Homo sapiens: one gene and its partner. The protein of the gene in region 2 interacts with the protein of the main gene of each other region in a pairwise test. Each region holds a gene or a part of one and is shown on either strand. Other genes may lie near its edges. The genes, in order: TNMD and KIR3DL3.

Region 1 (3,055 bases), on a different chromosome or scaffold from region 2:
GTCCAGCAGCTTAATTGATACTTAAGGAAGTTCACAATATATCTTTCATATAATTAAACACTGGGGCTATGCACAAAAGGATATGTTTTTAATGCATCAGTTATGGAGACATTTTATCATCAGCTCCTTATTTCCACTGTCTTAATACAGCAGAGTAAAATATGATATTTAGGTATCATTATGCTTTGCCCTTTTCTACTTCCAAACCTGTTGTGTTGGATCCTCTCTGGAAAGGGAGTCTTATGACCTACAGTCAAACAAGGTAGGTCAGATAATTTCCTTATGGCCAGCTTTTACACAGAAAAGCAGAGGAAAAATCAGAGTGATATTTTTAGGTTTAAGGCTGGCTTTGGAAAAAAGGGGTTTTGATTTATATGACACGCCTTGAGGAAGAGGGATTCTAGCTTTTATGGCTAGCCTCGGGGGAGAATGGGACTGAGAGACTGGCAGGTAGGAGAAGGTCAGAGAAAAACTTTTGCTTCTGAGGCTTTCATTTTGGGGCATTGTTTTCTGAGCCTCAGCATAGTCATCTATGTTTGACGGGTCTGCTCCATTTCAGTTGCTGTGAATATTCTCAGCAAACACTTACCCAGTGTGTTCAGCAGCAATCAGGCTGTTGGTGATAATGTAGAAGTTTATTAGAACATGAAGAGAGGAATTACCTACAAGTAATTCTGGAGAGCTGGCTACCAGGGGCCAGATGCCTCATAGGCAGAAATTCATTGAATAGCATGCATTTATTATATGTTGCCAGCAGTTTAAGCATTTGAGCTCAAACCTCCTATTAGACCCTCCCCAGCATGCGGGCCACCCACCAGTTACAAGGCATGATGACACGACAGATGACTCGTCCTCCTTGGTAGCAGTATGGATATGGGTAGTAGCCTAGTAAAGGTTCACAGACGCGGCGGCAATAGCGGTTGCCTCGACGGCAGTAAATACAACAATAACCTCTCTCATCCAGCATGGGATCAAATTCTATTCCATTTTCAGTCTGAAAGAAGAAGAAGCCAGTGTTGGGGGTGGGAGAGGAAGGTTCACTAGCAAGAGTTCTCACCAAGCAGGGGAGAACTAGAAGACTGTATGAGTTGGGGGCTTGTGAGAAATTAAGCTCCTTAGCCTGATCATGGAGATATATCTACAGAGATCGAGATTGATTTTGAATGAGCCTCCTGGAGATTCCAAGTTTCTTAAACATTTTTTTTTTTTTGTTAAAGCCATGATCGTTCTCCTTCCAATGATTGTGATCTGAGGGGTAGTAAGTTTTGTGAGGGCTCTTTTTTCCTCCTCTATCAAGAGTTTACATAAACATAACTCACATAGTCATTTATTGGAAGTTCTTCCTCACTTGCTTGTCTGGCGTGACGGGTCTTCTCTACTTTCACTTGAGGGACCACCCACTGTTCATTTTGTTCAATCCCTTTTTTTTCGTTGGCAGGAAAGTGAAGATCTTCTCCCTCCTCCTCAAAGTCTTGTAACTCAGAAACTAAGATAATAAATGCAAAGTTGTGATGCAACTGCTTTGCAAATGTTCCTGAAAGAAGTGCTTGGGAGAATAGCAGCTGGGGATAGAGATTTTCATTGTGTCTTCTAACTGGCATCATTTAGGCATGGACCACTTTTCCAAGCTCCTTCAGCTGATATTTTAGAGTAGTTTCCAAAACAAGCCTGATCATTTCTACATACACAAACTTCTTTGCTTCTTTGGCATCAAACATTTACTGCTTTGACTTAATAGCACACTAAATTAAAAACTGAGGACAAGGGACTTCTGTATCTCCTACAATGATGATTTTACCCATGTAGATGCTCAATAAATATTTCTTGGTTGCCTGAATTGATTTGACATCCTCTGTCCTCCCACTTCCCTTATGTTTCTTGTCTTAAATTTTTTTTAAACTTTCTGTTTAGAAATAATCTTAGATTTATGGAAGAGTTGCAGAAATAGTACAGAGTTCACATATTCTTCACCCGGTTTCCCCTAATGTTACCTCACATAACCATGGTACAATGATCAAAAATCAGAAGTTAGAATTGGTACAATGTTATTAACTAAACTACAGACTTTATTCAGATTTCATTAGTATTTCTACTAATGTTTTTTTCTGTTCCAGCATCCAGTCCAGGATACCACACTGCATTTAGTCACCTTTTTAATATCTCTAAAGAGTACCCACAGATGCTTACATTGGTGAGAATAACCTCTCTTGGGTAATAGAGTAATCTATGCTGTGCAGAATGAGGGAGGCCAAATTCCATGTTAGCTAAACAGACTAAGACATCCAGGGGCCTTTACCTTCTCTATGGGCTGACTGGAAGTTGAGGGCTGGACTCTTCTACTCTGGACATCAAGCCCTCAACTATTTTTATAGTAATTCCTAAAACAGCAACAAAGAAATTTGTATTGCAGTGATTGTCCTATCTTCTAAGGAAAATGCCACCATTTGACATAGGGAATCCTTCTTGATAGCAGAGCATTGTTTTTGCCCTTCTCTCCTCTATTCTTGGGTTGGACCCACAGTGGTTTGAGCAATAGTCTGGCATACCGACTGCAATGAATATAGATGTGCAAAGAGAGACAGATTAGTTTTTTGCTATCACTAGTCACATTAGGGTGGTGTTACCTTTGCTGGGATATTTAAAAGCCTGTCAACATTAATTTATCTGATTTATAACTTGGCTGTGAAAAATTCCCTCCTCACTGGCAGTCAGCATATATAGACTCATCCAAGAAGATATAAACCGATCATTTGTTTTCCTAGAAATGTAGCCTCTAAATGCTGGGAACATTAACCTGTTACTGTCTTAGAAAATAGGAGGAGGATGAGGATAAGAATGTCATACCTGATATTAGAGTGGGATTGATCCAATACATGGTCACGTTATCACAAATCTCCAGAATTTTGGAATTTTTAAGAAAATCTCGGTTTTCAATAGGCTTTTCTGCTGGGACCCAAATCACTGACTGTTCAAAGAAAGTTGTGGTAATTTCTTCATTCTGAAAGAAGAAAGTAGCTTAGGGTAGGGATTGGCAGAGAAATTAGTAGAACAAGTG
Region 2 (3,830 bases):
CTCAAGTGTTCCTTTAGAGCAACAAAAATGGACTAAGACAGCAACGTCCTGAGATCAGGAGGAACATCCCAGAACAGCCTGGGCTGTCTTCCTGTTCTTCCTGGAGGAGGACGTCATGCAGTGCTTTAGCTGAGTGCTTCCTGTGGCTCCAGGGTACAAAACCCAGGCTGGGCTGCTTTTTGATTTCCCCCAGATACACTGCATATGGGGTGACTCCACATGTCTCGAGCAGCTTTTCTGAGCCTTGAGGGACTGGCTCACATTGAAATGTAGGTTTCTGTTGTCACTCGCTGCTTATCTGTTAGTAATGAACCTGCCTGTGTAATGTGTTCTCTGTGTGTTCTGTCTCCCTGGAGTGACGGTGAGTGATAGGAATTGGTATAGGCCCAGGTGCATTCCAGGAGGTGTTTAGAATCTTCTCTGGGAAGACTGGATTGGGATTGATACACAGCGAATGTGCTTTACAGTTTCTACCACCACAACCCTCTTGACTCAAAAAAATTACATTCTCCAAGAAAAGAAAGAAAAAATGAAATCAAGATAAAAAAAGTGAAGTAGAACTGACTTAAATCAAACAGCCATGAAATAATGATGTAGCCCAGGAACAACATGCTACTTTTTGTGATCTGCTGAGACATATATTAGGCTGCTATTCCACCCGAGAAGCACGGGGAAGGACCGCCCTCTCCGTCGTTTATTGTTTCAATACAGCCTGTCCTTCTGTGAGTTAGTACGAAATGTGACCAGGGGCTAGTGCTGGCACTGGTCTCTGAGTCCAAGATCTGAGCTCACTCCAAAGAGTATTAGTGTTTACCTCCCCATGATCTATCTGTATCTCCATAGGTGATTGGAAGTAGAGATGAATTGGGGGATTTGGGTGAAGGGGCAAGTTTTATGCCATGAACAGAGCACGTTCTCTATTCCAGGACCTGTGCTGGTGGGTTCAGGAGGCTTTCACATTTTCCATATGATCCCAAGCTCACAGAAAGCCAAATAAGGAAGAGGTTTAACCTGATTGTTTAATGGATAAGATAAAGGGTCAAAGAATTAAACACAGAGAAATAGAAAAATGATGGTTGGTATCCAGTTGCCTTTGTAATTTCTGTGTGTCATAATTATGTATGTTTTATTTTTATTTTTTGAGACAGAGTCCCCCTGTGTCAGGCTGGAGTGCAGTGATGCGATCTCAGTTCAACCTCTGCCTCCAGGGTTGAAGCCATTCTTCTGCTTCAGCCTCCCCAGTCGCTGGGATTACAGGCAGGTGCCAATGCACCAGGCTAATTTTTGTATTTTTAGTACAGACGGGGTTTCACCATGTTGGCCAGGCTGGTCTCAAACTCCTACCCTTAAGTGATCTACCCGCCTTGGCCTCCCAAAGTGTTGGGTTACAGGTGTGAGCCCCCATCCACAGTCTTGTATATTATATTATACTAGGTCCCTTCATTTGCACCACCCCTCATGTGTCTATCGCTCCTCTGCCAGGTATTGATTTAGATGTAGAAAAAAAACACATCTCAGAAAGAAATTAATGAAACAAGGATTAAACTACTAGGAAAAATCAAACCCAGCAAGCCCTCCCTGCAAATGATTCTACCTCACAAGCATAGCTTATATCCATCTTTCATTCATTTAGTGTGTAAATCAACCCTACGTTTCACCAGTGGGGCGGGAATTGCCTTTTCCACGGTCTCCTAGATTCCAGTTACGCACCTGGGCCTCCCTTATTTTCATGTCGGTCACTGTTAATCAGGTAGGGATTCCTAGTTAGCTCTGAGTTGAATCCAAGGGCTGTGAGTATCAAAAACATGCTCCTTGTTCCTCCTTAGTTTCCTGTGTACCCAGTGTGCTCTCCATCTCTCTACAGTTGTCTTGTCATTCTCCCCATCTCATTCCCAGCATTTGAGGCAGAGCCTCTTCCTTGAACTAAGAATGTTTCCACCTTTGTGCCTTCACGGCTGAGAGCTCAGTGTGGAAAATCCTTCCGCCAATCTTCCAAGGGTTGAATCCATTTTTTCCATTAAGGTCACAAATATTATCTGATCAGTGAGACCTTCTCTGTCACCTGAAATTATATACTCAGCATTATCTATTACTTATTTTAAATCCTGGCTGGGCGCAGTAGCTCTCGCCTGTAATCTTTGCACTTAGGGACGCTAAGGCGGTGGGATCACTTGAGATTGGGAGTTTGAGACAGCCTGCACAACATGGTGAAACCTCATTTCTACTAAAAAAATATACCAAAAAAATTAGCCGAGTGTGGTGGCGCACAGCTGTAATCCCAGCTACTCGGTAGGCTGAGGCAGGAGAATTGCATGAACCCAGGAGGCAGAGGTTGCAATGAGCTGAGATTGTGCTACTGCACTCCAGCCTGTGGAACAGAGAGAGACTCTACTCAAAAAAAAAAAGAAAACAAAAAACACACACACACACAAAAAACCCCAGATTTGGTGCACAGATGCTTCCCAATGGATCATTCATTTATTGGTACCCTTGTGCATTCATTCTCTGCCCTCGCATTTACCCATCTGCAATATCAGCGTCCCAAGAGCAGAGGCCAAATGCATCCTGTTTACCATTTGTGGAAGGCAGGAGAATGCTGCCCCACCCCCAAAATGTCCCTGTCTTAGCCTCCATAGCTTGTGAATATGTTATTTTACAGGAAAGGAGGAATGAAGATTGCAGATGGCATTACGGTTGCTAATCAGCTGAACTTAAAAAGAGGGTACGCTGGATGATTTTAGGGAGATTGAGATGGATTATCTTGGTGACCCCAATAGAATCCCAAAGTCCTTAAAAGATGAGGAAGAAGGCAGAGCAGGATTCAGAGAAAAAGGTGTGGGTAAAGAAGAAGAGTCTGAATGATGCCATGTGAGACGTGACCAGCCTTTGTGGGCTTTGAGGAAGGAGGAAGGAGGAAGGGGACCAGGGGCCCAGGAACGTGGGAGCCTCTAGGAGCTGGGAAACGTTAAGGAGCAGATTCTTGCTTGGAACCTTAAAAAGAAATCCAGCCTTACTGTCCCTTTGATATCAGCCCAGTGAAATGCAGTTCATACTTCTGAGTTACAGCACTGTGAGATAATTAAGAAAAACATGTTTTCATCCACGAAGCTTGTGGAAATTTGTTATGGCAACAATAGGAAAAGATTCCACACTGCACAGCCTGAGCATGGGGCATTGGCTGAACGAGTGAGTGAGTGGAAGTGTCGTGTGCATAAATAAGCTAAATTCTCTCTTACTGCACGTCTCTTGCTCTGCTGAGTCAACCAGGGTTGCATCTGGTACACTGCTGATACGAATGTAAATTAGTACAGCCATTACAGAGGAGAAGAGTATGGAAGTTCCTCAAAAAATAAAATGAGGTCGGGCACAGTGGTTCATGCCTGTAATCCCAGCACATTGGGAGGCCGAGGTGGGTAGGTCACTTGAGGTCAGGAGTTGAAGAGCAGCCTGGCCAATATAGCGAAACTCTGTCTCTACTAAAAATATAAAAATTAGCCGAGTGTGGTGGTGGGAGCCAGTAACCCAGCTACTTGGGAGGCTGAGGCTGGGGAATCTCTTGAATCCTGGAGGTGGAGGTTGCAGTGAGCCCAGATGGCGCCACTGCACTCCAGCCTGGGCAACAAGAGTGAAACAGTCTAAAAAAAACAAAAACAAAAACAAAAACCATAAAACAAAATGTAAAAAGACACTTCCAGAGGATCTAGCAATTCCATGACTGGGTGTAAACCCAAAGGAAAGGACATCAGCGTATCGAAGTGACATCTGCACTCCCATGACTGTTCCAGCAGTGTTCACAGTAGCCAAGATGTGGATCAACCTACCTGCCCATC

Evidence for each region.
Region 1: the proteins of KIR3DL3 (region 2) and TNMD interact in a two-hybrid assay, tested with the Homo sapiens proteins (one large-scale study listed by BioGRID).

What each region holds. Positions count from the first base shown.
Region 1 is NC_000023.11:100,597,447-100,600,501, reverse strand, and holds the end of TNMD (tenomodulin), read right to left. Parts: intron 2,999-3,055; coding exon 2,845-2,998; intron 1,487-2,844; coding exon 1,320-1,486; intron 995-1,319; coding exon 785-994; 3' UTR 617-784; downstream 1-616. UniProt on the Homo sapiens protein: May be an angiogenesis inhibitor.
Region 2 is NC_000019.10:54,730,834-54,734,663, reverse strand, and holds part of KIR3DL3 (killer cell immunoglobulin-like receptor 3DL3 precursor), read right to left. Parts: intron 1-3,830.